Linked DNA regions of Homo sapiens. The protein of the gene in region 2 purifies or fractionates together with the protein of the main gene of each other region. This does not show direct contact. Each region holds a gene or a part of one and is shown on either strand. Other genes may lie near its edges. The genes, in order: ZHX1 and LHX9.

Region 1 (15,707 bases), on a different chromosome or scaffold from region 2:
TGTGATCGAAAAGTCATTTTCTACTGAAAACAATTTTTCCCTACTTTTCTCAAGAAGGTGTGTTAAGTCTTTTACAGCCAGTCTAACACAAGAATGCTATTCTCAGTTCCAAGTGAGATTACCTTTGAAGACTGAAAAACCATTCATCTGGTCATTATCTTCCCTATTTATAATGGTAAGGTAACTGTTACCCACTTCACTGAGGATATAATGATTTGATTTTTCAAAATACTTTGAAAGATAATAGTAATCAGTATTGGTAATATCAACTTATAAGAACTCTGTTATCCATTTTTTAAAAATGAAAACTGCCACATTAATGTTTATCAAATCTTTCCTAGTATTTTCTGGAATCATCTAAAATAACAATAGGACAAATGCTTCTTATAAAAGCCAATTAATTAATCAGATAAAATATAAAAACAATTATGTACAAATACATTCAAATATATATATATTTTTTACGTCACACAGGTAATGTGCCAGTGTCATAACAAGGTTTGAGAAAGGCACATTTCACACATAAGCATGAAAACCCAATCATCACACTTAAGAACTACAAAAGGATCAATATTCAAATATTTAAGTTTTGGTATGGTTAATATAAGTAAGAGTATTTAATTAATATCCTGACTCTTATAATTAACTATTATTAGTAGCCTACGTTTTGAAAATACAGTTTCAGAATTTGTTCTTGTACATCCTGAAGCATTTTTCTGGATATAGGCAAAAGCATAGCAAAATTTCTAGATCAATTTCCCCATACCAAAGGTACATTTTGTCTTGTTTACCTCTGTTATCACAGCACTTGGTATAGTGCCTGACACAGCAGATTTTATCAAATACTAATTTTAAAATCAATTATAAATATACAAGATTTATTATGAAGTATGATGCCGTCTCCTTTTAAATTAAAGCAGTCCTATACTTATAGCTCTTAAAATTTGAAAGTATATTAAAAAAAAGTGTTAAGCATATGTCTGCTGCTTTTTAAGGAAAGCTTTTAAAAACTTTAGACAAATATAGTATCATGGGATCTAAAGTGAGTACATTCAGTATCTGAGTTTTACCATACCAAAACAATGAAACACATACTTGCCACAGCTTCCTTAGCATTCTGTTCTTTGAAATGGAAGGGTATCCCTTCTAGTTAGATGTTTAGCTCAGGCCATCATTACCAACAGGTCCAAAGCAGCAGTCTGTCTTCTCCTACAAAAAAGTCATATTTTATTATTCTAGATATAATTTAGCCTTAGTCAGGAAATTTTTACAATTTAATGCCTTAGCTTTTAATAAATAAATGTAATTTTGAAAAAAAAAGTTTATTCCCTCATCAAAACTTTAAAAGAACCATTTAAATACCAATCCTAATATTGGTAGTAAACACAAAAACTACACATTAAAAAAACTCTATTTATATCATATAGAACAACTAAATAACTATTAGACCATTTTGAATAAAATTTCAAAACGTGAATATATGCCGTCTCTAGTGTGAAAATTGAGATGCAGAAATTGGGAGTTCTTTAAAATGAGTATACCGGCCGGGCGCGGTGGCTCACACCTGTAATCCCAGCACTTCGGGAGGCCAAGGCCGGCGGATCACCTGAGGTTGGGAGTTTGAGACCAGTCTGACCAACAAGGAGAAACCCCGTCTCTACTAAAAATACAAAATTAGCTGGGCGTGGTGGCGCATGCCTGTAATCCCAGCTACTCGGGAAGCTGAGGCAGGAGAATCGCTTGAACCGGGGAGGCAGAGGTTGCAGTGAGCCGAGATTGCGCCATTGCACCCCAGTCTGGGCAACAAGAGCGAAACTCTGACTCTAAATAAATAAATAAATAAATAAGTATACAAAGGTTATGAAGACAATTTAGTTAAACTAAGAAATGGGAGTAGTTGTATATGTTTATGTGTTAGTACATAAACCTAGTGATATTTGTATCCTAATTTATTATGTTAATCAGAATGGAGAGGATTATTAATGCTGACAACACAAGCCAAAACAAGTTAAACAAACTAGTAGTACTTGATCTACAAACATGGGGTTATCTAACAAAATGACTGGTGTTTAGCCATGTCGTTTTTGCCTGAAAGCTACTACCAAATGGCTTTACAATCAGTGCACTGTGAAGTATTAACATCATGCAATCAAATAAACAGAAAATAATTCTCTGAAAATTCAATTACTGTCCAAATATGTTGTTGTATATAATCTAGATCAGTTAAACCCATCAGAAAAGTTTAATAAAGCTACAATTGCTTTTCTTACTAGAACAGTCATAAATAACACTTTTGAAGGGTTAAAGCATTTTGGTTGTATTCTTTTTTTTTTGAGATGGAGTCTCACTGTGTCGCCCAGCTGGAGTGCAGTGGCGCAATATCGAATCACTGCAATCTCCGACTCCCTGGTTCAAGCGATTCTCCTGCCTCAGCCTCCCGAGTAGCTGGGATTACAGGCACACGCCACCACACCCAACTAATTTTTGTATTTTTAGTAGAGACAGGGTTTCACCATGTTGGCCAGGATGGTCTCTATCTCCTGAGCTCAAGTGATCTGCCCGCCTTGGCCTCCCAAAGTGCTGGGATTACAGGCATGATCCCTAACCGGCCTTTTGTTGTATTCTTTAAGCACTATTCTCTGTAAACTATAATGAATAAATATTAAGGAAGAGTATTTTCCCAATTAACCTTATTTTTTTATTCCTGCTACTATTACATACAAGTTTATGAAGAAACTTCTCACATCAAGAAATAATGTAAATACACCAGTCCTTTAGTAAAATACCTCTAGGTTAGGTTAAAACTTAGGCTGAATAAGTACACTATTTTCATGAAAAGCAAAAGAGCATTTTCCTGGTAGGCCCAGTGGAGCATCTTATTATCTCTGTAGCCTGGGACTCTACAGTTTCATTTCCTGGTATCTCCTTGTTCCGCCACTCGTTAGCCATCAATCTACAGGATGTGGACTAGAAGAGAAGATAGGAAACAGCTGCCAAAGAGGGAAGGTTATTTTCCAAAATGAATTATTAATACTTTAGGAATCTGGTAACCTACTTCAATCCATTCTTAAAATCACACAGTAATTGCAAGATATTTTACCGAATGAGTCTCTTGAGAAGAGCTGCCAAGACATGTAAAGGCACCAGGATACCAGAGGAGCAAAAATGAGCTCATCAGTGCTTTTGAATGAAAATCCTAGTTGCCTGATGTTATTTAAGTTCCTGATACTGGGATTACTTTAGAACATTTCTATCTAATTCAAAGTATTTTTCTTAATTTAGTATGAGTGAATTCCAAAAATTAAAGAGCTCATCTCAGCTATGTACATTATATAATAAAACAGAACAAGCTGTTCTGGTAGTAGATGGATTACAAAAAAAGACTGAGAGCTTGGAATTTGGAACAGACTGGGTTCAAATACAGCATGCCACTTACTAGCTGTGTGACTTTAGAAAAATGGCTTAGCCTATCTGTGCCTCAGCCCCATCATCTATAAATGGGACTGGTAATATTAATAGGATACTATTTACTTAATAGGGTTGTTGTGAGGATTGGAATAGGTAACACGTGTAAAGTTTCTGGAATATTCCTTGGTACTTAGAACACAATGAATGTTAGCAAAGAAATCTTTCTTTAAAATTTGCTAACTGTTGACAAGTGATAAAATACTTTAAGAATCTGGGTAACAACCAACCAACAAAATTTATTTGCCATTTCATACCTCTGAGCATATTAAATCATGCTGGAACAAGTTGGCTTCAAAAGGCAGATACTAATCAATCAAATTTAACCTCTCCCCCCACAAACTTTTTCTGACCTTAGCTTCAAAATAAATCATTACTGTATGACATATTTAAGGGGTATTTCATAGAACTAGCAAACATCTGATATAAGTAATTTTATCATAGTAACGAGGAGAAATTGTTCTCATGATCTTCCCCACTCCCAAGTATAGCCCATGTCTAGCAAAATTTTAACAAACTTCTTTTTAAGAATATTGATGGTAAAAGAGAATAAACTTAGAAGAAAAATATAATTATTAGTTTAGTGCTTAGAAATATCAGAACCTCCTATCTTCTTTCATTTCTCACTAAAAAACAAAAAAGGAAAAGACTTTTAAGAAGGGGAAAAAGGAAGTTAGAAATCTTGAGAAATAGGAAATCACCAAAATTTAATGAAAGAGTTATTTTATTTACAATAATATATGATATGGCTATGACTTCGATATTTTAATTTTGTTAAGATAAATTCTGATAATATTTTTTAAAATCTAAAACTAAGAACTGAAAATTAAAATCTTGCATTAAAAATGATTTATTTGGCTGAGTGCAGTGGCTCACACCTGTAATCCCAGCATGTTGGGAGGCCAAGGCAGAAGGATTGCTTGAGGCCAGGAGTTTGAGACCAGCTAGGGCAACACAGTAAGACCCTATCTCTACAAAAAAAAAAATTAAAAATTAGCCGGGCGTGGGTGACACATGACTGTAGTCCTAGCTACTCAAGAGGCTGAGGAGAAAGGATCGCTTGAGCACAGGAGTTTGAGGGTGCAGTGAGCCATGATCATGCCACTGCACTCCAGCCTGGGCCACAGAATGAGACCCCGTCTCAAAAAAAAAAAAAAAAAAATGTATTCAACTGGCTCCCTTGAATAAACATAATTCTTAAACTGCTCATATATACTTATTTTACAAAGTATATCATCACATTTGTTTAGACCAAAGGTATACAGTCTTACCTCTTAAGTTGGAAACTGATTGTATAAAATGCCAAGATTAAGTATCTTTTAAGATCAAAACCTGGCAACTACATACAAAGTTACATATTAATATTTACTTTAAGAATATCCTGTATAAAATGCAGATCTCCAAAATGTAAACTCAAATGTATATTCTGATTAATAATCTAAGTCAGCAACTTTAGTCATGCAAATCTGGTTATTGATGACTACAAATATATCAGAGCAACAAGGATACAATAAAATTTATCAATAATAGTATAGAAACATTGGCTCTTATTCTAAAGATAGTATCAGTTTTAAAAACAGAACTATAACTTACTTTTGAAACTACGTAGGATTATTTAAAAGGATTTTAAGTTCAAAAAATTTAGTCTTAACAGTAAATGTGCTTATCACAACATAAATAAATATTTATAATGATTTAAAAAATGTGTATTACTGGCTAGCACCATAAACAGTACAATAGATAATTCCAAAAATCTCTCTGAATAATTGCACTGACTATGATATTAGATTAAAAACTAGGTGCTGAACTTTCAACACTGTTTATTTAAGTAAAGTCTTTGGGCCCAAATCCACAATGCTGCAACACAAATAAAAGGGTTATTTCCTCAGCTACATTTGTGATCATTTTAATAATTTTAAAAGCATTTTCATTTAAGTATTAAGTTATAATTTACAGCAAACTAAGTCTCAAATATCACATTTTATGCTTAATTAGCATAAGAAATATAATACATCATAATATAACCTTTCCATCTTAATATAAAATATAATAATACAAAAGGGAGAAAAATCTTCAAAATGAACCACCTCTCCTATGCTATTAATTTCGCTAATAACTGTAAAACTTTGTCCCCAATTATTGAAAAAAAAAGAACTTACAATTATCATTAAAGGTGAAATAATTGCTACATCATGCATGAACTACCCCCCAAATCCGGTGAAATAATAAGCTTAGCTATAAAGGAAAGAAATCCACTAATGAGTGTTCACTAGCACAGGCACATTTATGTTTTCGGATTTAGCATATTTTCAAACCATCTGGCATTAATGCCTCTCTGGTTCACCCAGCCTAATCTGTTCAGAATTGAATATAAAACCAGAGCTACATGAACATTGAGGAAACCAAAGAACAGCACACGTGCATAAAATGTTCCAAATGTAAAGTTCTAAACTAGTTTCTATTTGAACTGTATCTTTAAAACATTTCCATTGAAGACGTTAAAGCTCTTTCGAAAATACAAGAATGGTTCAAGAAATCTCTATGAATCATCACTATCATCAGTTACCCAAGTATTACCCTTTCTCATTTTAATCCTGATTGTCAAATAAGGCGTCTGAAGAGGTACTTCAACAAAAAAGATTCATTGATAACTGAAATGCTATCATTTTATATCGAAAAGGTCCACGATTATACATTTTACTTTGTATAAAATTAGTCTGCTTAGCCTTAACATGCTTTGGGAAAGGAGAGAAAAGCTAAAAGGAAAAAAATATTCATGAAAGCCCTTTTTCTTTTATGTCCTGTTACCGCATTATTGTCATTGGCAGCACTCACATTTCTTTTGCTTAAAATCAGGAGTCAGAATTGCTACTTTAGAAATTAAAATAATCGATGGGTATACTAGGGCCAATTTCCCTGTTAAAACCAACTCCTGCTCACCTTCGCTCCCGACATAAAAACAAATGACTTTTTCAGAATAATTTTTCAGAAACGAAGATAATTAATGTAGCACCATATAACACAAATTAAAGCTTTCAGACAAAGACTGAGAAACAATGACCAACACCAGCAAATCTAAAGTGCTCTTATATATGTATACACACAACACACACACACACCCCAAACCAAATATTCACTGTTCCTGGGGGGAGACTGCTTCTTCCTCCCTAACCGTGAACCGCTGTATATTTTCCAATTTTGTGATTTTCCTTTTTCTGCTATCACATTAACCTCCAAGAGAACTGCTTAAGTTACATGGAATCCCAACCTAATCACATCACGACTTCTCTCTCAGCCTTTACATTTTTCTCTCAAATATTAGCTCTTCGCATTTTTTTTTTTTTCTAATAGCTGGGCTGAGTTGACAGAAAAGGGCTGTGGAATTCCTGCTCTGTCCGATATCTTCCCTGTATTCCTCTTTTCTCATCCCTAGTCTCTGTTCTAATTCCCCCGCCTGCTGTCTCTCATTGACGCCTTCCCAGCTGCTGGATCCTTCACTAACCTAAGCTAAGGATATCAAATGGAATCTTTTCCTTCTCAGGGGCTATGCTCTTTCCTTACAGTTACCCACGGAGGAGAGAGGACAGGAAAGGTACTAAAACAAAGAATTGCCAAGTCCCTTTACCTCCAACTTTGGTGTAAATATATAAGGAAAGGGGATCTGCCAGGGCTCTTCTTTCCTGCCCTTAGACCTTGTTCCTCTCACACCTCTCCTTCCCAGCCTTTTATACCCCTTGAGGTATTAGTAGATTGTTCACTGTGGGCCCTAAGGCTTGGAGGATTCCCATGGGTCAGCCCCCACACCCCCACGCCCCTACCATCCTCTTTAATTAACTTCTCCCTAAATCCCAGGGCTTCGTCACAATCGTAATATGGTTCTTAAGGACTCAACTCCCAGTCTTTCCCAAAGTTGGGACATGGCCTGGCCCCGAAACGGGTGCGCATAGCCTTCCTTGAACTGGAGGTAAAGACTTCTCCTGAAGGGTTTGCTGGGGCTCCAACCTCAGTCAGTGCGCTCAGCTCCAGCAAGAGAATCTCTCCTTACTCTCAGGGAGACTGGGTCCCCCACGAGGCAGCCACACGCCCCCGGAGGACAGCGCTCCTGACCTCCTCTAGGACTCCCAACATTACTGGGGTGCTCCCTCCGGCGGCGCCCTCCGCTGGGAATACGCAGTCTTCACTCCTCTCAACAATCCTAAGTTGCTGGGTCCTCACCAAGGCAGGGGGCTGAGATGTTCCCTCCAGAGAGCCCCCCGCCCCCAAGCTCTTTCGGTGGCGGAGACACCCAAAAAGAGCGAGGGAGGCTGTGGGTCTGTCTGTCCCTCTGCGGCGACTACCCAGCCGCGAGGCAGGCCCCGTCCCTCCCCCTCGGACGCCCCACGCCGGGTCCACCCCGCCACCCGCCGCCGCGAGCGGGCTCAGCCCCAGGGGTCTCTGCTGTGAGGCTGCCCTCCTCCCGCCAGGCCCCGCGCTACTCGCCTTTCCCGTGCCGGCCGCGGACTCTGCGCTCCAGTTCCCACCCGCAGCCCAGAGTCTCCGGGCCCGCTGGTCGCGGAGCCGGCTCGCGCCACTACCTGCAGGGGCCGCCGCGCCTCTCAGCGCCACGCCGCCGCCATCTTGCATTTCAAACCGGCTGCACTTTTCAGGGAGTCAACTCTGACCTGTGAACCCTAAACCCGGAACCGCTCGGCGGGCCCGCAAAGGGGCCTCAGCAGCTCGGTGGCCCCGCGGAGTGTGGGGACTCAGGGTGGGGGTGCGAGGAGAGGCGCGCGCCCCAGCGGCCGTCCGGGGGCGGAGGGGGAAGGGAGAGAGCCGGCCAAGGCGGGGCCCTCCCGCGCGCGCGTCCTCCGCGCGCCCCCACCCCGTGCGGCGCCGAGCTCTCCACGCCCAGACCCTGCTACTCCACTGGGGTCCGACCCCGGCCCCTAGTCCGGGGATTGGCGCACCGCGGGAGGTAGGGAGGCGCCCCGCCCCCCTGTCAACAGAAGCCCCGCCCCAGACTGCGGAAGCTCCGCCCCCTGTCAGGAGACGCCCCGCCTTCCCAGGGCTCGAAATGGCCCCGCCCTTTGCCTGCGACCGCTCCGCCCGCTGTGGACTGAAGCCTGGTCTTCTCTCGGGTCAGCACAGAAGGCAGCCCCGCCTTCCTTGCGCTCCGCCTTCCTAATGTCACTGCTGGATCGTGAGAGGTAAGCATGCTGGCTTCTACTGAAACGCCCCTTGTCATCACACGCCCATCCCCTGGGGCGACACGACCCAGGCCCCGCCCCTCGGGGGGCTGCTGCGAGTCCGGCCGGGAGCCCAGCGCCCTGACAGAAGTCGCCGCGCCCCTTGTCAGCGGCAGCTCCACCTCTCCTCGCTTCGGACCCCGCTCCTCCGCGGGCCGCAGCTCCACCCGCTGACACCGAAAGTTCAGTTCAGCTGCACTCAGAACCGCCGGGCAAGGCGGAGCCGCCCTCTGCCCCTCAGCCGCCCTCCTCCCTGCGAACCGCCACTCGCTCTTCCAGAGGCTTCTGTCCGAGTCGAGGGCTTCACATCCCGTCGGCTTTCAGGGAACCAGCCCCGCAGCGGGGCCAGCGAGGGCCAGGGGTTTCGGGAACACTGCCCGGCGTCTCCGCCCCTCCCTACTCACTTTCCCTTTCCCCCGCACCGCGGTCAGAACGTGGAGGAACAGAACCAAAGCGGAGAGCGGCGACTCACCCTCCAGCTGCTCCACACGCCGGGCCTTGGACGCTCGAGCGCTCCTGGGCCCCTTGACGTTCACTCCCCACCCCCATCCCAGTCGCGGACCCTTTGTGCAGAGCTCCGCTGAGCCACAGTAATCCTAAAAGCACAGCAGAGCTCCGCTGAGCCACATTAATCCTAAAAGATGCAATTGCTTCAAGTGGAAGTCTGATTTTTTTTTTTTTTTTGAGACGGAGTCTCGCGTTGTCGCTTAGGCTGAAGTGAAATGGCGCGATCTCTGCTCACTGCAACCTCTGCCTCCCGGGTTCAAGCGATTCTCCTGCCTCAGCCTCCCGAGTAGTTGGGATTACAGGGGCCCGTCACCTAACGCCGGGGTAATTTTTGTATTTTTGGTAGAGACAGGGTTTCGCCATGTTGGCCAGGCTGGTCTTGAACCCCTGAACTCAAGTGATCCGCCAGCCTCGGCCTCCCAAAGTATTGGGATTACAGGAGTGAGCCACCGCGCCTGGCCGTGGAATCTGATCGTTGAAATCAGTGTTCTACAATATTCTTTTTATTTGTAGGTTTCATCCTGGAATCCTAAAACTTGTGTAGGATAAGGCTTAATTTTATAAGCAAAGGTATTCAACCCTGCCACATTCAATGCCCTGTATTTACAACAAAAAATATAACACTGCTTTACTCTTCTGGAGTTAAATTCCTAATGCAAACTATCTCTACAAATAATTTCAAGAAACCAATGTAATGTTCTAATAAAGGTGAAAAAGGAGAAAGTAGTTCATAATAAAATACTGTATGTACTAATATCAAGAAAAATTTTAAAATAACAGAGTTTTCACAATGTAAATACTCTGCCACCAATAGAATGCAAAACAAAAACTGTCCCGGCAAAATTTCAGTATGCCCCTGAGGGGCAGTACTGCCCTCGCTGGGAACCTCTTTAGACCGAGGAAGAGGTCTGGAAATGCTTCAAATAGAGAAATTCATTCTTTTGTCTACACAGTTAATGACAAGTTTTCTTTTGTTGTTGTTGTTGTTGTTGTTTTTGAGACGGAGTCTCGCTCTGTTGCCCAGGCTGGAGTGAAATGGTGCGATTTCGGCTCACTGCAACCTCTGCCTCCTGGGTTCAAGTCATTCTTCTGCCTCAGCCTCTTGAGTAGGTGGGATTACAGGCGCGTGCCACCACACCCGGCTAATTTTTGTATTTTTAGTACAAACGGGGTTTCACCATGTTGGTCAGGCTGGTTGCGAACTCCTAACCTCGTGATCCGCCCTCCTTGGCCTCCCAAAGTTCTGGCATTACAGGTGTGAGCCACCACACCCGGCCGATGACTAGGTTTTGTGTGTGCCAGTATATGCCAGGCACTGTGGGAGATGTACAGCTGAGTTAGTCAACTTTCCTGTCTTCCAGGAACTTACAATCAAGTAGCCAAGCAAAAAACAGGAGCATAAAGATGTGTCAAGTGAAAGATGAGAAGAGACCCCTTTAGGGATGTGGAGCTGTTGACTGTAACTTCACATTTTACCCCCACTTCCTCCCTCACTTTATTCTTCCTTCTCCTCTTCTACTTTAGCACTAGTTTATAGAGTCACCTCCTCCTCCCTATAAGCTGTCTCCCTGGTTCACTGCCCAATGCCAGCCATCCAGAATTCTCCCAGTTTAGGGTCATGCCCACAGGGCAATTCTGTCCAAGAAAACACAGTGCTGAGAACAATGTCCTTAGCTGAATTGCTGCCAATTACTTGGTATCCTTCTACAAAGCAAGACTGTTATCATCACCACTCAAAAAAAAAAACTGGTTGCAGACTTAAGCAATATGAATATATGTTTAGCATAGCAGATTGTGCCAGCCCACATAAATCTGCTTAGAGATCAGGCTCACAGAGTAACTTGTTTTTATTAAAATAAATTCATTTATAAAAATTGTAAATATGATGGATTTTAACAGCTGCGTGGCTCCAGGAGTTTTTTTTTTTAACCATGGATTGGCACAATTAGAAGTCTAGATTTTTTTTATGCATATGTTTTGCAGTTTGTCATACTCAAACTGGTATGGCAAAACTTCAGTACTCTTAGAGATAGAAGTTGTTCAGCAGGTTTTAAAAAGCACAGCACTTTTGCTATTCAGAGCCTCTTCCACCTTTGGAACAGTGAAAAAAAAATATTGGTAGGAAATGAAGAGCTTTGGATAAAAAGTTCTAAGCTCTGGTGTCATCTGAAGAGGAATAGGCTTCCAACAGCACTTTTTGTAGTAGTTCCCTTCTGTTATTATTTTTCCTTTTTCCACTTTTTGTGAAAAAGTCTTTTTAAAAACATGATACCATGAAATAGACCAGCCAAAAAGACATCAAACTAAGACACTTTAAACTTTTGACTACAGTTAGGTGAACTTAAGAATTTAGCCCTAGTGAAGTGCTCCCACTATTTTCTGTAATGGCTACATTAGAAGGTGAACAAAAATGTTCCTACTAAAACTAGTTCAGGCTGAATAAACTTTCTAAGACAGTTTAGGGGTCAAGCCATTTCCTGTTTCTCTTAGTGCTTGCTCTGTGAAAATAATAATGTTATTGGTAATAACAACAGTAAAAACAAGTCAATATTCTTGGTACTTGTAAAATTCCTTCCCACTCCACTCTTTCCCTCTACTTCTAGCATAGGACCATATATAGTACTACAGGACTATAGATGCAAAACAAGAAAAACAGAGAGGAAAACTGATTTTCCAGTATTCATTCAAAGAGTAACACATTGATACACTTTATATTTTAATCATAGTGTCATCTGGGTTGATTCATTCATTGGTGTGTAACTCTATATCCACCAAAACTTAGTGTCTTGGCCAGGCAGGGTGCCTCACGCCTGTAATCCCAGCACTTTGGGAGGCTGAGGCAGGTGGATCACAAGGTCAGGAGATCGAGACCATCCTGGCCAACATGGTGAAACCCTGTCTGTACTAAAAATACAAAAATTAGCCGAGCGTGGTGGCATGTGCCTATAGTCCCAGCTACTCAGGAGGCTGAGGCAGGAGAATCGCTTGAACCTGGGAGGCAGAGGCCGCAGTGAGCCAAGAGCGCACCACTGCACTCCAGCCTGGGTGACAGAGCAAGACTCTGTCTCAAACAAACAAACAACCAAAAAAACCTTAGTGGCTGTATCAGCATGACTTCTAAGGAAAAAGTGGCAGTATCTATTTTTTAACATAAAAATGTAGCATACAAATAACCCTAGGGAACACTCCTCCACTAGAAAGCAATGCTAGAGTGAGAAAATGCAATAATTCACTGTGTTTCAGTCTTTGCAGAGAAGTCTAAGTAGCAGTCCTTAAACTTTAATGTTCATGAAAATTATGGAGAACTTTCTTTAAAAATAGATTCTCAGACCCCACTCCTGGAAGAGTCTAATTCAGTGGGTCTGGGACGAGGCCATGAATCTGCATTTGACATGCAGCTGCAGACTTTGAGAAATACTCGTCTAAACAAACGCTTATAATTAAGGAAAAATTTCTTGTAGAAATAACTAAGGGTTACAAGCTACAAAAACTCTGAAAAGAAATACCATTCCTAAAATTGTCAGTTACATGGACATCAACACTGGGAAGGAAATGCCTTCAGTCAATAAGAACTTTCGGACCCATTGCAGACTTTCCATATTCTAGGAAAGGTCACAGCTCATTAAACTCTGAGCACTTTAGATATGTTATCCCATTATACCCTCCTAGTATCTCTGTGAGATTGTGGGTATTGTTTGCAGTTAACATATGAGGAAGCTAAAGTTTGGAGAGATTAACCTACCCAGGATAAGTAAGCTGGATTTTGAATCCATCCTGACCAGTCCTAAATCCTAATAAAGATGTTACATACACTGCTTCTAAGAAAGAAGGCATTGCATTAGCCAAGCTACAGTGTGCACTGGATTTGAGAGCATTCACTGTCATTGAAGTCAGATGGTCACTGTCAAATCCCAGATTCTCTGCCACTTGCTAACGGTATCAAGAAGTACAAACCCACCACAATTTAGTGGCTTAAAAAATGAAGCAATTAGTTACCTCAGAGGTCTGTGGGTCAGCTGGTTGAGTCTGCTAATCTGGGTAGTTCTGAACTGGAGCAGGTTTGGCTGATCTCGGCTGGACTTGCTCAGGCATCTGTGGTCAGCAGGTGGGCTGTCTGGGGGCTGCCTGGTCTCGGACAGCTGCATTCATATATCCAGGGGCTGGCTTATGCAGGACAGCTTCAGCCACACATTCAGTGGATGGCTGGCTGTTGATCACAGCAGGAACTGGGCCACTTTGTCTCATCTTCCAGTAGAATAGCCTGGACTCATTCACAAGCAGCCACAGTGTTCCAAGAAAGCCAGAAGCAGCCTTTAAGATCTCTTGAAGCCTAGGCTCAGAGCTGACATAACTGTCATTTCTGCCACATTTTGCTGGCCAAAGCCAATCACAGAGCCAGCCCTGATTCCACCTCCTTTTTTTTTTTAGAGAGAGAGACAGGGTCTTGCTGTTGCCCAGGTTGAAGTGCAGTGGCACAATCATAGCTCACTGCAGCCTTGAACTCCTGGGCTCAAGGCATCCTACTGCCTCAACCTCCCGTGTAGCTAGGACTACAGGCGTGCACTGCCATTTTCCGCTTGATCCCACCTCTTGAAAGCAGCTGCAAAGTCACATTGCAAAGGATGAGGCTACAGGAACGGCAAATAATTGTGGCCATTTCTGTCATTGAGTTACCACACTATGTGACTGAAGGCAGGTTTCTTAACCTGTCTATGTTTTCACTCATCTGTAAAATGAAGATAACATTACAATTGTTGTGTCCTATATCAAAGGGTTAATAGTTGATGAAAAGTTACCTTAACTTCCCAGAAAATATCAGCCTGATGATGCTCTCTATGGTCTTTCCAGCCTGAAAGTCTTATGAATTTGCATGGAAGAGAGACCAGGCTGATTTATGTGGCTCCTCAGGGAAGGACGTTAGCCCTGATTTTCTTACTCTTGATTTCATACTGTTCAGTCAACATAGTTCTGGTTGTGAGGTACCGAAACTCTCTTAAGCTAGCTCAATCCAGGAACGAAAGCTACTCTTTGACCCTGCAGGTCTACTCCATCGTCTCCTCTCTTGACTCCCTTTTTTAAAATTTTTTTTTTTTTTGAGACAGAGTTTCACTCTTTTTGCCCAGGCTGGAATGCAGTGGCGCAATCTCGGCTCACGGCAACGTCCGCCTCCCAGGTTCAAGCGATTCTCCTGCCTCAGCCTCCTCAGTAGCTGGGATTACAGGCATGGGCCACCATGCCCTGCTAATTTTGTATTCTTAGTAGAGATGGGGTTTCTCCATGTTGGTCAGGCTGGTCTCGAACTCCCGACCTCATGTGATCCATCCACCTCGGCCTCCCAAAGTGCTGGGATTACAGTCATGAGCCACCGCGCCTGGCCTCTTGACTCCTTTTAAGTCTCCTCGAGAACATGGCCTGGCTAAGTAGCCTCAGCCAAGGAGTCCAACATGACTGTTGAGCTCTGTTCATTAGAGTTAATGCCCCAATTCCCAAATCTAAAGAGAGAACCTGATTGGTCCAGCACATTTCTTCTTAAAAGGTCAGCTTAGTGCAATCTGCCAGGTTAGGAGGGGAAGCCAGTCTTGTGGGGAAAGAGCAGTTTTACTTGGGCAGCAGAGGCTGTAAGCAACGACGGTTCCTTCAGAAGATGGCTGTGAGCCAGCAAAGACAACGCTTTACATCTCCTGGACATATGTCGCCTTCTCTACAATTTGAGTTTACCTTTCCATCAAATAGTGAAAGGACTCAATTTCAAGGACCTTATAAAATCCATCTCCTCTCTGTACATTTCTTTTTTTTTTTTTTTTTGCGACAAAGTCCGGCTCTGTCACCCAGGCTGGAGTGCAGTGGCGCAATCTCGGCTTACTGCAAGCTCCGCCTCCCAGGTTCACACCATTCTCCTGCCTCAGCCTCCCAAGTAGCTGGGACCACAGGCGCCCGCCACTATGCCTGGCTAATTTTTGTATTTTTAGTAGAGACGGGGTTTCACCGTGTTAGCCAGAATGGTCTCAATCTCCTGACCTTGTGATCTGCGCGCCTCGGCCTCCCAAAGTTCTGGGAATACAGGGGTGAGCCACTGCGCCTAGCCAGGGTTGGGGTTTCTTCTGAGGGCTATCAGGGAAGGATCTTTTCCATGCCTGTCTCCTTGACTTGCAGATGGCCATCTTCTCCCTGCGTCTCCACATCATCTTCCCTCTGTATATGTTGGTGTTCAAATTTGCTCTCCTTATAAGGACACCAGTACACAGGATTAGGATCTACCCTCCTGACGTCATTTTAAATGACCTCTGCAAAGACCCTGTGTCCAACCTTGGTCACGTTCTAAGGCGCTGGGAGTTAGGGCTTTAACATATGAATTCTGAGGGAGTCACAATTCAGCCCATAGTAGGAGGAAAACAGTAATCATTATAAACTACAAAATGCAAGTAGTATCTCAGCCTGTTCTTTCCTGGGCTTATCCACAGTTCTGCATTTCCGAATGTCTTTCAGTCCCTAAGAATATTCAGTAACTAC
Region 2 (14,294 bases):
AACAAACCCTAAGTAGTAAGGTGGGAGTGAGAGAGACCTACGAGAGTGAGAAGAAGAAACCCTTTTCTAATATAGTTATTTGTACCAGCTCCCCACTGCCCACACTCACAGTGTTTTAAGACTCTACCTTTTGTCTATATTTCTGGAATGAGACACACTGTCTGAAGGTATTGCTTTTTGTCATGAGACGTAGAGAAACAAGTATTACTACTCCCTCAAGTCTGAAAGTTTCTGAGAGCCCACCAACTAAGGAAGCATCTAGGTCAATTCTAAGGGTTAGCCTTTTCTCATATTCCTAGAGCTCCGTCAGTCAGGAAAAAGTTAGAAAAGGCTGAAAAAGGAGGAGAAGTTAGAAATTCAAAATTTGTGAATTTCTTATGTAAACATAAGAATATTATTTGTTTCAGCTTTTAGCTATGACTGGTTAACACAGGGCTATACCAGAAAGAAAATATTTTTCCCCTGGAGTGATTTTAATAAATATTTCTGAAAGAGAATGAGCCCAGACTTCCCTTCACACGGTTCACGCCTGAAGCGCTCCCCACAGCTCACAGTTGAGAGATACTGATGGTGCTTATTTCTAGGCTCAGATCTTAGTCCCTTTTGCTCCAGATGTGTGTGAGTGGGATGTGAGCTGTGCCCCTGGCTGGCCTGGCAGAGAGAGGGCGGCATTTTCTCTTCCCTTACAAAGACTTTCTTAGCACCAAGGGCAAAACAACCCAGTCTTTGAAACCAGCCAGAAAGTCATTATCCCCAGGATGTAAAGCTACACTTTTAAAGGGTCATTTCCAAGAATCTACTGGCTCTGCATAGGAAATACAATTGTAAAATGAAAACATTTTGTGAAATATTTACACAACCAACTTCAGCCAACTTCACAAATTAAAGAGCATGGTAATTTTTTTTCTTTAAATTCTTCCTTCAGATAGTTATATAAATTTAGATCTGATCATCCTGCCTTGTACTGCTTTATAATAGAAAATCTAAAACCAACCTGATCATGTCATTCCAGGGAGAAAGAAACCTGAATCTTAAAAAAGGGAGGCATCCCTTAATGTGAGCTCTTCCAATCTGCTTAATAAAATGTTCTGCTTAATACAATGTTATCTGCCTGCTAGGCTCTGTTTAGAATTACTTTTTAAAAAATATTCAGCAAATCAGCATATTTACAGAAATACAGAAGTTTTGTAGTCATCACCCAAGAAGGCAGCCACATATAAAACTCACTTAACAAGAAATTCTTCCTAATGTAAAAAGACTAGACACAAACAAATGTCTCCTTTGTTTGTATTTCCATAAGACGCATAAGTAGGAGGACACACTTGGCAAAAGAACAGGTGAGTTCATTGAGGGAACTGACTATACCATATTCAACTTTGAATTGATTCCCTGAGTCAAACACAGGGGTAGGAGCTCAAGAAGCATTCAATCAAGATGTTGGGCCCTTTGTTCATCAGTAAATTACAAGTGAGTATTAATGCGAAATTAAATCAACTTGAAGTGGAATCCAAGTCAGATATATACATTCGAATGTAAAACATAGGCTTCCTAAACTCCACCAGAAAGGCTACCATATGTCCAGAGATAACAGAAAGAGTATGCATTACATTTTATCCTATTTTGGCCCAGTGGGGATATGTCAAGTTCAAATATTCTACAGAATTGCACTTTCATATCCTCAAATGGATGAAACAGCATCTCTATGACCTACTATAAAACTATACTTATCTCCAGTAAACTCAGCCATATTTCATAACCAGATTATAAATATACCCACAAAAAATAGTCAAAGGGGCACATGTTAGTCATCGGAGGGTTCTTCAACTCAGATTTCTTTCCTATCATATGTAACATGTAACCTTTCCTGAACAATACATCAAATTGAATTTCACACTTGGGACAGAGGACTTGGTGTTTAAATAATGCCCTTGGCCATCTTTCCCCCACTCCACACCAAGGTAATATATAGAAATGAATATGATTCCCAACCTGACTATATAATCATTAGTTCTTAAAATGAAATTTATGAAAAATAATTGTAGTAAGATTTAATGAAATGGCTTCCCTTAAAACGCATTCTATATCCATTATTGCTGATTAAAAACTCAGCAGAGCCTTTTAGTGTGTAAAATACAGTTATAGGCCCTGTTTCCACATAAAATACACAATCCAATATGTAAGGAGATAGCTCGTTGGGTCTTTATTAAACAGATATTACTATATATGATTTTCCTGTGACTGTTATCTCATATTATGCAACTTAATAGAGAAAGCTATTTCTTCTACAGAGTAACAGTGCATTATCTGATATTATTTATGTTTAACTACACATGCATTATATAAACTTGCAAATGACTGTTTCTCCAAGGCCTATTGCTAAAGCTGTAGGGGATTCCCCCACTCCCCGAATTATGAGATGAAATGATAACTCTTAAAACTGTCTTAAATATCTACCTGTCAGTTCACATCCAGTATTATAAGTTAATGAGAAGATCTAAGTATTTTATTTCCAGTCACTTATGCGATGGGCACCCATCCTAAAGTGAGTGTCGCTGTGAAGGTATGTAACCTTCTGAGAATGAAGTGATCCCTGGAAGACCACTAGGGGTCAGTGCCAGGCTAATTTAACCACCAGGAGCCTTAAAAGTTTGGATAGGAAGAAAGGGCTTAAGGAAAGGATATTTTGAGAAGTGGCAAAAGTTTAATCTCTCAATTAATGTTTAAATTACACAAATAAGAGCTTCCTATCCTAAACTAAATCTTCTTCTCATCCCTAGAGGGCTTTATTTCAAGCTAGCATTTCAGGTAAACTTTCCATGTCTCTTTCTAAAATATTTGCCTGATTAATTTGCACAGAGGTATAAACAAAACTAGGGACATTCTCATTAAAAGGCATTTGCCCTATCAAGCACTAGCTGGCCTTTGCCAAGTTTCACATCTTCTCTGAGATTCTTTGAATCACAAACATGTTTTCTGCACATTTTGAAAACATATTGTGTAAATTATACTTAGTTTAGTATCAACCTTACCCTTTATGAGACTTGTTTACATTTAATGTTTACATTTAATGAAAGATAGCAAGACAAAATCCAAAGAAGGCTAAAATAACGAGTTAAAACTGGATTTATTTTATTTTTTTACATTTTAACGCGTGTTTAATTTGCTGAAGGGTTTCTTTCCCTAGTTTTGGAACAAAGTGGCATCAGATTCGCAAGCACTGTTTTAAATGATGGCCTGATTTCTGGTCAGGCATCTTCAAACCAATTCCCATAGATAATTTTAACCTGATCTTTAAAATATATATACTATTGAATAGTATCTCTGGGAAAAGTCCAGAAAGGATGGAGTAGATGTTAACTAAGAGGCATCCAGTTTGTAGTGGTGCGAGGTACAAACTCTTCGGGCTAAGGGGGCCTAAGCAATTTTTCCCTCCTTTGGGACCAAGACAAAAGCGACCTTCTCCACAACAACTTGTAGCAGCATTAATCTGCAAACTAAAGACCTAAGTGGCTCAGAAGGATTCTTTTATTCTTCTTAAAAATAAATTTGTACTCTCTAGTTATTTTCAGAGAAGTAAAAGAATCTAAATTCTACTGTTCTTAAAGCTCCTTGGATCTAACATGAAGATCCAAGGCGAAATCAAATTTAGCAAATTAGATTAAATAAACAATCAAAAAGTCAGGCTTGCCTACTATTTGGCTAGAAATCTTCACCCTTCTGGACTTTATCCGGGCTGAGAGATCCTTTCTTTCAAAAAAAAACTCACTAGTTTATGTATGAGTGGCTTGCTTTCTCTCTCTCTCTCTCTCTCTCTCTCTGGGAATTAGGGCCTTGGTGAGTGGCTTGAGATTCCAATGTCACCTTCTATTAATAAAGAACAATTAGTGCCCTGCCTGCCCTGCCCCGGGGACCACGCATCAAAGAAGATGAAGTAAGCATGCTGGGCAAAGTGGCCCCTAACCAAATCTCCTGCCCCAGCACAGCAGGGGCCAGTGTGAGGGCATGGCCACTACTGAGGGTTGCCAAAACCCGGGGCTTCGCCCGCTGCCCTCACACAGATTGACCGACCCTGGTGAGATTTGCAGTGAGCCGGCAGGTCCTTTTCTTTTCGTCCAGCAGCCCTGGTATGAACCCCCTAGGGACAAGTGCTGCCGCACAGTGTTCCTCATTGCTCCCCATTCTCCCTGCAAGGCCACCCGCTGTGCTTGCCCATAAAGGATTCTCCTCTTCAGTTAGATCAGTCGGTAGAGAACCCCAGGAGAGAGCCCAACGGAGGTCTGAGAGAGCGGCCACTCATCCTGTGTGGGTTCCCCTGAAAACTCTAAACTCAGAGCAGGACTCTTAGCTTCACATTCACACTGGCTGTGTGATCTTGGGCAAATCACTTAACTGGCTGGACACTGTTCTTTACCATTGACTAGCAATGTCAGGCACCATACCAGGCCCTGGGAACTGGAAGAGAAAAACAGGCAAGATCCCATGCTCTGAGATGCCCATGCTTGGTATCTGGGGGCATTCATAGTAATAGAGTGGGGTTGCCATAATAAGGTCCTCAAGGTTCCTTCCAACAGAATGGTCTCCCCTGTCCTGAGTCTGCTGAGATTCTCAGCCACATGTGGGCCAGGGCACTGAAAGCCAAAGCAGTTAAGGTCCTTAGGCTCCCCAAAAGTGCGCCAGGGCTTTCTACAACCTCTTTTTTTCCAGTGATTGGGACTCACAAGAATAGCTTCTGTTCTGCTCAGAGTTAGATTATCATCTGCAGAGCCGATCACCATCCTCACCTGGAGGATGGGGAGTGGGGGCAGGCTACCAACAATGGGAAACTGCTGCATGTGAGAGATTGATACATGATAGGCGTGTCCCCCAAAGCAAGGAAGAATGTGTTCTTGACTTGTTGTCTGCATGTTGTTTTTAATGAAGAGAGAAGGTGGTTGAGTATAGATGAATGGCCTGAGATACCACTAAGCCTCTTCAGGAGGCCTGACCTGGAGGTACTTTCAGTTCCAGGGGTCTGGATGTCTGGATGGTCTATCACACCGGGAATGAGACGGCTGGTTGAATATCCTGGCTTAGGAAAGACACAGGCTAGCTCAGCTGTGGAGAGTGATTCCCACCCCTACAACTGCTTTTTGCCAAGATCAGGGATTAGGTTTTTCAACACTCTTGCCAACTGTGTTCCTGATTAACTTTGGGCTGGTGACCACAGCCTCTGACCCCTCTAGACAGACTAGGGTTGGGCTCTGTAGACTTTTTTTTTTTTCTTCAGTATTTAGGAAACCTCCTACAGGATCTATAATTTGGCCTCCACAAAGAAATTGCCCTGGGGCTGTTTTGCTCCAACTGAGAGCCAGAAACTAATGGGCTCATTAACTAATGGGCAACAAGGATTTGGCTCTGCCTGTTTGGGGAAAGTCACTACAGCCCCATAGTTATGAATGTGTTTTTTGCCACAACCTAAATAAAGTGCTGCCTCTCCCTCCCTTCCCCCCTCCTCCTCCCTCTCTCCCTTCCTTCAGAGTGAGAGGGAGTTGCAGTGAGAACAGAGGCATTGGGCAAAACACACTCTTGCAGCAAGACTTTGGACGGGGAAGGAGCTCTACGAATTTTCCTCAGGGAGGCCGGGGCTGCGCCGGGGGTGAGGATAGGAGGCACACCTGAGTTGTAATTGACGATGTCCACTCCCAGCGCTGGGCTCTTCCGCTTCCGGGGCCGCCCTTTCTGCACGGTGCCCGTACCGTTGAAGTAAGGCAGGGCCAGGCCGCCGCTCTTGGCCGCCAGCTCCGTGTAGCTCAGCTGCGGTGGATACTCTCCTTGCAAGAGGGTCTCGAAGTGGGCGCGGCAGTACACCAGGCTGTCCTTCATGCCGAAATGGTCGCCCGTGGTCAGAGTCTTGTTGCAAGTGGAGCAGGTGAAGCAGCTCAGGTGGTAGACAGAGTCTCGGGCGCGCATGACCATCTCCGAGGCGGAAATGCCAAGGTGGCAGCGGGCACATCTCTGCACAGAGAACCTTCTGGAAGGAAAGAGTTGAGTCAGGGCGCTAGTTGAAGCAAGGCAGAGCCATATCCCACCCGCGACACCTGGGTTTGGTCTGCAGTGGCCTGAGACTGGGACCTGGGAGGGTTCCAGGGGGACAGGAGAGTAGGCATTAATTTTATTTGCTCATCGACCTTTTCTGATAAACCAAGACAAAGGATCTTTACATTAAAGTCAGAAGAATCGGGCAACTAAGCCTTAGTTTTCTTCTCTGCAAAGTGAAAATTTAAAACATTAAAAAAAATTTAAAAAAGCAAACCACTAGTTAGCACTAGCTAACTCACGGTACTAGAATATTAAATTGCCATGCCAAGTGAAAACACTTAATCAATTACAAAACATATGAATGAAAGAAGATATAATTATTCCTGGATGTGCGCGGGTGTGGGAAAGCATGCGGACACAGTCCTGGAAGATGACGATTTTGTAAAGGAAAGGTTATTATTTTTTTAACAACTTATCTTGCTTGGGCTGAGAGCGGAACTAGGTCACCTGCACTTAGTCCTGTCTTTCCCAATCCAGAAACATAACTGAGAAGAATCAATAAAGACGCCTGCTGCTGATTTTCTCCAATCTGGGGGGCATGGTTGTAACTAGCGATAAAAGGAACCCGGAACTGAGTGGCTTGGGTTTTGGCAATGGCATTTATTCCTTTTCATAGTCATTTACAGAGTCTCCTGCCACCTACGAAAACCTAACACTCTGTTGCTGCTGCCCGAGCCACTAGTTCAGTTTCAAGGCGCAGAACTTGCCCAATTCGTAGCAAGCGGAAAACAAACACCCAATCAAGTCTCGGTAGACGGAGACCACGTCCATTTACTCTTCCCCAGATTTCCCCAAGTTCCGCCAGCCAAGCTGAGAAGTGATGGGAGTGCGTGGTATTCGCTGATAAAGCTCTAGATTTTTAATGTCCCTCCCACCCACCCTCACCGTCGGTCAGGGAGATTACAGCTTGAAGGCATATGCAGTGGGTTTGCCTGGTCTCCGAAATGATAACAGCACCCGGAATGGGGCAAAAGGTAGGGGACGGAGAGGGGATTCCGGGCTCAGGCAGATGGCCCCTCCAGGTGTACTCGGGCGTAGGAAGTGGGGGTGTAGGGGAGTACCTGTAGTAATCCTCCTTGCAGTAAATGCTACCGTCCTTGGCAAAGCAGGTGAGCTCGGACTCGAGGGCCAGCTTACATTCACAGCACTTCAGGCATCTCAGATGCCACTGTTTGTCCACAGCCAGCAGATAGTACCTGTCCGAGATCTTGCCCCCGCAGCCGGCGCACAGGGCGGGCTTCTCCGGGCTGAGCGGGGGCATGCCCTGCAAAGAAAGCACACCGCAAGGCTGAGGAGGGCGCGCGGTGTAGCCGCACGACGCGGGGTTCTCCCCCAGGCAGACCAAGCCCAGGGTGTGCAGGGAGAGCGGCAGGGGCCAGGGTCCACTGCACAAAGGCAAAAGTCAGGGGAAACATTTGTGATTTCTCTCTTTGCGGCCCGCTTGCTTTCTTCCGTGTCTGCCTGAACCGGCGTTCGCGTCCTCCCGGGACTACTAACCTAAAGACATCCCAGCCATCCGGAGCCTCGCTTAAAAAGGACTAGGAAAATATTGACTACAGTTTGGTGATCGTTTCCGAATTCAAATAATTACAAGCTAAAAATTGTGGTTTTCGACGCACACAAAATAAAACAACGGAAATGATAAGGGAGTGAAAAGGAAATTTCAACGAGCACAGGTTATTTTTAAACAAAAAATATTACAGTTCGATTTCTCTAAATTCTTATAAGCAGCATTGAAATCAAAAGCAAAGGGGAGATTATTGGACCTCTGCTCATAATTTGGTCGACTTTGTTTTGATTGAGATATATTTGGCAGCCCCTGCTGTTCCCTAATTTTCAGGGCTATTGGTGCCGTTCCCAATAAATGTGTAAAGTGGCTGTTCCCAAAGAGGGTCCGCTGTCCAGCCCGCTGTATACAGTCCCCTCTTTCCCTAGCATCAACAGGCGTACTGAGACCTTTGTCTTGAAAATCTGTTTAGTGCCCAAGTTATGCTTCCCTCTGGGTCCCACTGACCCGACTCGGGATGCCCCAGTGGCCCCACCTTGAGGAGCCCAGCCCCGCTGCAAAATTTGGGTTTGGGTTGCTACTATTTGTTTTTAAAAGTGATGACCAGAAAAAGGGAAAAGGAGTTAACCTCCGGACATTTCCCTCACGACTAGCAGAAATGGGTTGATCTTCCCCACGAAACTTCAGCGGGCCTGAAAAAGTAAAGTTTAGCCCTTTACTCCGACCAGGGGCCCCGGCACTGAATGAGTGTTACAAATATAGACACGTTCACCAGTTGGGCTACTTGGCCGGACCCAAAACCCAGCTGATAAGGGCTAGAGCAGTCTCCTGATTAGTTTGGGCTACAAGTCCTACTGTGGTACCAAAGGATCTACACAGCTATGTTTGGCCGAAATAATTTCCGGAGACTTCTGTAGTCCCCCCCCCCCCCCGTTAGTAATCTGGAAAGGGAAGCGCTTAGATAAGTAATTAGTTTTCTTTATTAAGAGGACATGACTTTATTATTATGGATAGTAGAAACAGTGGTGGTTGATTAGCTTGTTTAAGGGTTGGTTATAAAGTTCATGCGTTTCGACTGGGTGCCGCGCTCCTCCGTATGTTTTATTTGATTTCCCCCTACACATGACACCCGCCGGGTCCTGGCGCTAAACGTAGTGCTGTCTCCTTAGAGGGACTGAGTCGGGATGCCAGAAACCCTGAGATTCTCTCGGTTAGGGGTCCCAAGCCCCGAGCGTCTAGAGAACTGGAAATGACCCAGTCGCGTCGGAATCTACTCCACAGGTCCGGTCATCAGGCCCAGAGACTAAGGCCACCTGGGCTCCTGCTTGGCTCGGACGCCTCGGCAGCGCGCCGTCCTCCTATTGCTTATGCCCAGCTTGCCCTCGGAGCTGCGGATCCTCGCCGGGGAGACGCCTGCCCCGGAATCAAGGGAACCTTGAGGTCTGTAGAAGAGAATGCCACCACCCCCCATCCCACCTCCTCCCAGTTCCTCTCCCTGCTCTTTCGGAATCAGCTGCGACGGAGGATAGCCAGCTGCAGACATTTCGATTCAGAAAAACGACCGTTTCTTAGCCCTGTAGGCATAGGTGGACGGGAGAAAACTCACCCGCCACCCTCAAGCGGACGTCTCTACGACCCGCCGCTCCGGTTCTCCACCGGCCAGGGAGTCGGCTTGGTTTAACAGAGGGCGCAGGGGTGCCCGGCTACCGCCGCGGCGGAGCCCTTCCTTACCGCGTCGCGGCCGTTGAGCTGGGCGCCTTTGGCCAGACGGGCCTCAGTCTTGGATCTGCGCTCCATCTCCTCCATGATGCCTTGGATGTGGCCTCCGGAGATCCCGTGAAAGAGCATGGCTGGGGGGCGGAAAGGACACGAGTTGTCTTCTGCTCGGCACCCCACTATTTCCATATACACACGCCCGGGGCTTTCAGCTCATCCGAGTGAAGGAGGCAAGGGACCAGAGAGGGCTGCCCTGTAGGAGCGCAGAGACGCTCGAGGATGGAGGGAAAGAGGGAGAGAAAGGAGGAGAAGAAACAGATGGAGTGGAAATCGGTCTGCTTGGGGGGCCGAGGGGAAGCAAAAAGAACTGGGAAGAGTTGGGGGGAAGCCTCAGCGGCTCCCTGAAGGAGATGTGCAGAAAACAAACAATTCGGGCGGAGGGAAAAAGAGGCGTAGAAGGCGAATCTTACTGCTCTGAGAGATCGAGTTACTAATGGGAAACAACTGCAGCGGGGGGAGGAAAACAAAATCTGGTGAAGAAAGAAAATAGTTTTGAACACAAAGAAAGAAAAAGACGTGCTATTTTCAGCGTTCCCTGGCTGCTTGCAAGTTCCCAGTGCCTGTAGATTGGGTTGGGGACTGCTCCTGCCTGAGCTGTGTCCAATTTGTTAAGAGACTAAAGCCAGCCCATTTTTGATAATTTAGTAGGAGGAGTTCTCTCCCCGGAGCTGCCACGGATTTTTATTCAGACAACAAAGACCTGTCATACTCCTCTCAACCCCCTGGTGATGGGCAAGCAGGACAAACATTACAAAGGGGTGGGGGGATAGAGAGCGGGGAGGCAGGAGGAGGGGGCATTTACCTCCCCACAAAACACACACACGCGCGCGCGCGCGCACACACACACACACACACACACACATCCTTCCAAGAGTTCCCAGCAGTCATGTTTTAAAGGGGAAAAGGAGCTCTTGTTGTCCCCGCCCTGTTGCAGAAGGCCTAGAACCCGCCTATTTGATCCGAGTTCAAGATCAGACCTTGGCTCAGGACACAGAGAATATCAACTTCAAACTTTGGATTTCCTCCTTGTGGACTTTTTCATCCCCAGCCTGCAGGACTGTCACCCGAAATGCATAAATATTGAGCAGAAATGTAAGCAATTTACTGAGGTGGAGATAATGCTGGTTCCTCTCCTCCCCATCCCATCTTCCTCAATCCACTTTTAAAAGCAGCTGTCTGACAATTCATCTCTTTGCCTCACCTTCTTGAGGGCCGGAGACCCTACTAGATGCTGGCTTCATCCGAAGTGGAGAGGGCGTTTGGAGCGTCTGCATTTCTCAGGGTTACTTTTGGCAAAACAATTTTCTTTGAGAAAATTAGAGTGTAGGGGACAGGGCATGGACCTGTACACACGGGTACGCAATTGCGCCTTGGCCATAGGGCGGCTTATTCTCTTCCCCGGTTCAGGTTTGAAGGAAGGTTGCCGGAGATTCTAATGTCTCATTTGAAGCTTGCCAATATAGGAAGCGACTTGCGGACTCCCGGGAGCTTGGCGCCTGCCCCCGCAGGACTGGGCGCTAGCCCCATCGCGTGCTTCTCCCACTACCCTGGCAGGACAGAGGACTTGTAAAACTGGGCGCACCCGCACACTCAGAAGGGTGTGAAAGGGACTCTTTGCCGTGGAGGAGGGGAAGGTGAGAACTGACAAGCAGAATGGCAGACCTGCTCCTCACAAGAGGTGGGATTGTTCTGTCGCCCTCAGTTCTCGGCAGCGGCGGCCCCTCCCCGGCCCCATTAAAAAGTGTCCACAATACTCTGATATTGTCGATTCATTCAAACGGCCAGAGGCCCCCTAGGAGTCCGAAGCACAGCGCTGCGGCAGGAACCAACGCGGCTTTACCCAGAGAGGAGGACGCGCCGGCCGCTCTCTGTTCCTTCCGTCCCCTTCGTCAGCCTGCGTTCCCCACTACTTCCCGCCGCCTTTCCCAGGACTGCGGTGCCTGTGTCCTGGCACATCCTAGATACCTCACAAGAGCCGCCCGGCCGCAGACCCGCTTCCCTCCGCCCGGGGGAGCCCGACCGGGAACTGTGGCCAAAGCTAGAAAGATGACGGGAGAAAAGCCAGGGAGAGAGGGAGAGAGGGAAGAAGGAAAGAAAAAAAGAAGTGAGAGGATGAGAAGAAGGGGAAGGAAGGAAGGCAGAAATAAAGCGAGAGAGGAAACGACCCCTGGTGCAGCAGCCTGACTTCCTGTCCCAAAGCGTTGTCTTCTGAGGCTCCTGGAGTGACCTCTTCCATGAAACTGAAGACACTACTGCTTCCCCTCCTTTTTTCTCAGGGTCAAAAATAATGTTATTTGCAGACTGGACGCAGTTTAAGTCCTCCGGGTGCCAAAATGCAGCTCATAAAACGCAATTTCACACAAAAATGAAGCCAATCAAGTGAACTAAGCTGGAGACATCCCCCTCCTCCTTACTTTGGCAGCTATACCTGACAGCAGGGCTGCTATTTACTGTAAGTAATGTAATTAGCCCCTTTGGATGGGAATCAATGAGCTTTTCAAACCCACGTGCACACAAGAAGGGCCCTGAGGAGGGGCTGGGGGCAGCAGTCCTTTCAGAGACAGCAGGTCCTCTCACAAAAGGGCAGATTGCCTTCACACAAGTCAGAGGCTAAACTGGCTCAGAGCTGGAGGAGGAGAGGGAGAAAGAGGAGGAGGAGGAGGAGTCTCTGAGAAGTCCCCTCAGTCAATTCACCCAAGGAAGCTCCAAGCAAAAAGTAAATACAGGACTTCAACCTACTTTGTCTAGTTTCTGTGCTAAAACCTCTCCCAACCCCCAAATGGGGGTGTTTGAAATTAGGTTTGGTTCTTGTTGCATATTGCCCCTGCTCAGCAAAATCAACAATGAAGAACCCAAGAATACCACTGCTTCCTTGCAAGAGATAAAACTTTGGAGACTGCATGCAGGGAAAGTTAAACAACTCCAGGAAAAAGCCAGAACTTTACAGCGTCTCCAGGGAAGCCAAACACAGAGGTTTTGTAAGCCCTCCAATCATCCATTCATTCTTCTATTCCACACAAGTTTGTTAATCATCTAGGTACAGGCAAGGCAGAACACCTTCTGCAATCAGTTTCCAAGTTGAATCCTAGCTATTCCTGCTCTTATAAAACTCAGGTTATAAGTTCCTGCATCCAGTGGCATTTGCTACTTCCTGTAAAGAAGCAAACTGCCAGGATTCTTCCTTCTCAGTGAACGCAGGAAGTCTGGAGAAAGCTGGGGGTGGGGTGGGGGTCAGCTGGAGTTTGGGAGGTCCTTGTTAGCTCTGCGGAAATACGTCCCCATGGGTCCAGCCCTGCCTTCTCTCACAGTTCCTAAGGAGGAAGCCCAGGAAGGGTGGGAAGGAATGCCCTCGAATTGGGTGTGTGACCCTGGGTTTTCTACTCTTTTTGTCTTGGAGCCCCCAAGAAAGATTGCCTAAGAGCTCCCCGCTCCTCATTCTCAAAGGACTTTAAATAAGCACTTTAAATAAGGAAAGCATCTTTGTACCTCTGCTTTCTTTCACCTCTCCAGCAGAGGGGCTGAGGCCCGGTGGCTGGGGACAAAAAAAAAAATGTTCCCCCTTCTCCCAGCTGTAGTCTGAATGGCCCGCAAGTGTTCCATAAAAATTACAGTGTTCATTTTTTCAGTTCCTGAGCTGAGGGACAGGTGCATGTGGTTCTCTCTAGCCTGCGTCGGGGATAAGATCTTAAGTCTCCTCTAAATTCAAAGTTCTACCAGGTATAATGGGGCAGGTCCCTTGACCAGCACTGCTCTCCCTCACAATTGAGCACACGCAGTCCACTAAGCTTTCTTTCCTTTCTATTCTGACAGCACCCATCCCGCTACTGTTGCCGCTTTTAGGAAAGTGGACGGCCGGACTATAGTGGAGCATAATAGTTGGAACTGAGAGTTCGGGATCTTAGAATCTCTATGAAGGTCAAAAAGACTGCAGCGCCCTTGTCGCCGGCTCAGGTGGGTCTACATGGGCAAAGAACCCGAGCCCAGTAGAATTCCCTAGGGGGGAGGAAAGGGAAATTAAACCCACAGAACAGTTAGGGTTGAGAGGGAAGAAGTAACCCAACAAATGTGCATATTTTGAGAGCAAAGGTGACTTAAGGTCTCTCTCTACCTGAATTTTGGAGGCCATGATTCTGCGCCTCTAAGTTTGCCCTTTAAGAAGGAGGCGTTACCTTTCCTCCAGACCCTGTTAAGCTGGTTAAGGAGCCCCTTCGGTTTGAAAGGCGCGGCTCTTAAAACAGTATCCAGCGTCTGGCACTGTCCTGAGCACCCAAGGCCCAGTGAAACGTCAGCGTCAGCCTGAGGCTGGGAACCATGCGTTCAGTGCCGCGCCACCTGGCCCTGGATGCCCGGGCTGCGCTGGATGGAAGGTGAGCGGATTGCCGGGACACGCTGGGGCCTTTCTCCAGACAGTGGAGACTGAGATACTCCATGTGGAAAATTTCCCCCTACACTGAGGTTGGCAGATCCATACTGGGGCTGCTGCACGGGCGCACTTCTGATTCAGTCCTACTAGGGGATCCTCCCTCAAGACAAATGGGAGTCAGCCAAGCAGAGCTGGGATACGGGGAGTTCGGCTGCCTGGAAAGGGGTACCCGAGGCCACGCTCCAGCTGCGCACCCTTGCCAGCCTTTCGCTGGGCGGTACTTCCCGGCCAAGGCCCTGCCCTTTCGCGCGTTCTCTGCCTACCCTCACCCTTCGCGACAAAAAAAAAACCTCTCGCCAGCTTTTGCTTCCTTCAAACCTCTGTTCTCTATAGCCCCTGGGCTCTTCTCCCCAAAGGGGCCTGCGCCAAGTCTAGAATACAGCTCTTCTGAAATCTGATGCTCTTTTACCTGAGATTTGTTGCGCCGCCTGCCCTCAGCTCTGCAGAAATAAAGGGAGAAGTCCCGCACTGCGTCCGCTGAGATCAGGCGCAGAAACGGCTGCGCTGGGT

The links.
Region 1: the proteins of LHX9 (region 2) and ZHX1 purify together in Homo sapiens (affinity purification with mass spectrometry; 3 studies listed by BioGRID and IntAct, with this or other methods). This does not show direct contact.

What each region holds. Positions count from the first base shown.
Region 1 is NC_000008.11:123,266,178-123,281,884, forward strand, and holds the start of ZHX1 (zinc fingers and homeoboxes protein 1), read right to left. Parts: upstream 8,110-15,707; 5' UTR 8,040-8,109; exon of another isoform or gene 7,945-8,039; intron 1,210-7,944; 5' UTR 1,117-1,209; coding exon of another isoform or gene 1,096-1,116; intron 569-1,095; exon of another isoform or gene 465-568; intron 1-464. Other genes in the region: ZHX1-C8orf76 (zinc fingers and homeoboxes protein 1), read right to left, coding at 1,096-1,116. UniProt on the Homo sapiens protein: Acts as a transcriptional repressor. Increases DNMT3B-mediated repressive transcriptional activity when DNMT3B is tethered to DNA. May link molecule between DNMT3B and other co-repressor proteins.
Region 2 is NC_000001.11:197,913,020-197,927,313, reverse strand, and holds the start of LHX9 (LIM/homeobox protein Lhx9), read right to left. Parts: upstream 9,943-14,294; 5' UTR 9,491-9,942; coding exon 9,317-9,490; intron 7,343-9,316; coding exon 7,140-7,342; intron 6,011-7,139; coding exon 5,655-6,010; intron 1-5,654. UniProt on the Homo sapiens protein: Involved in gonadal development.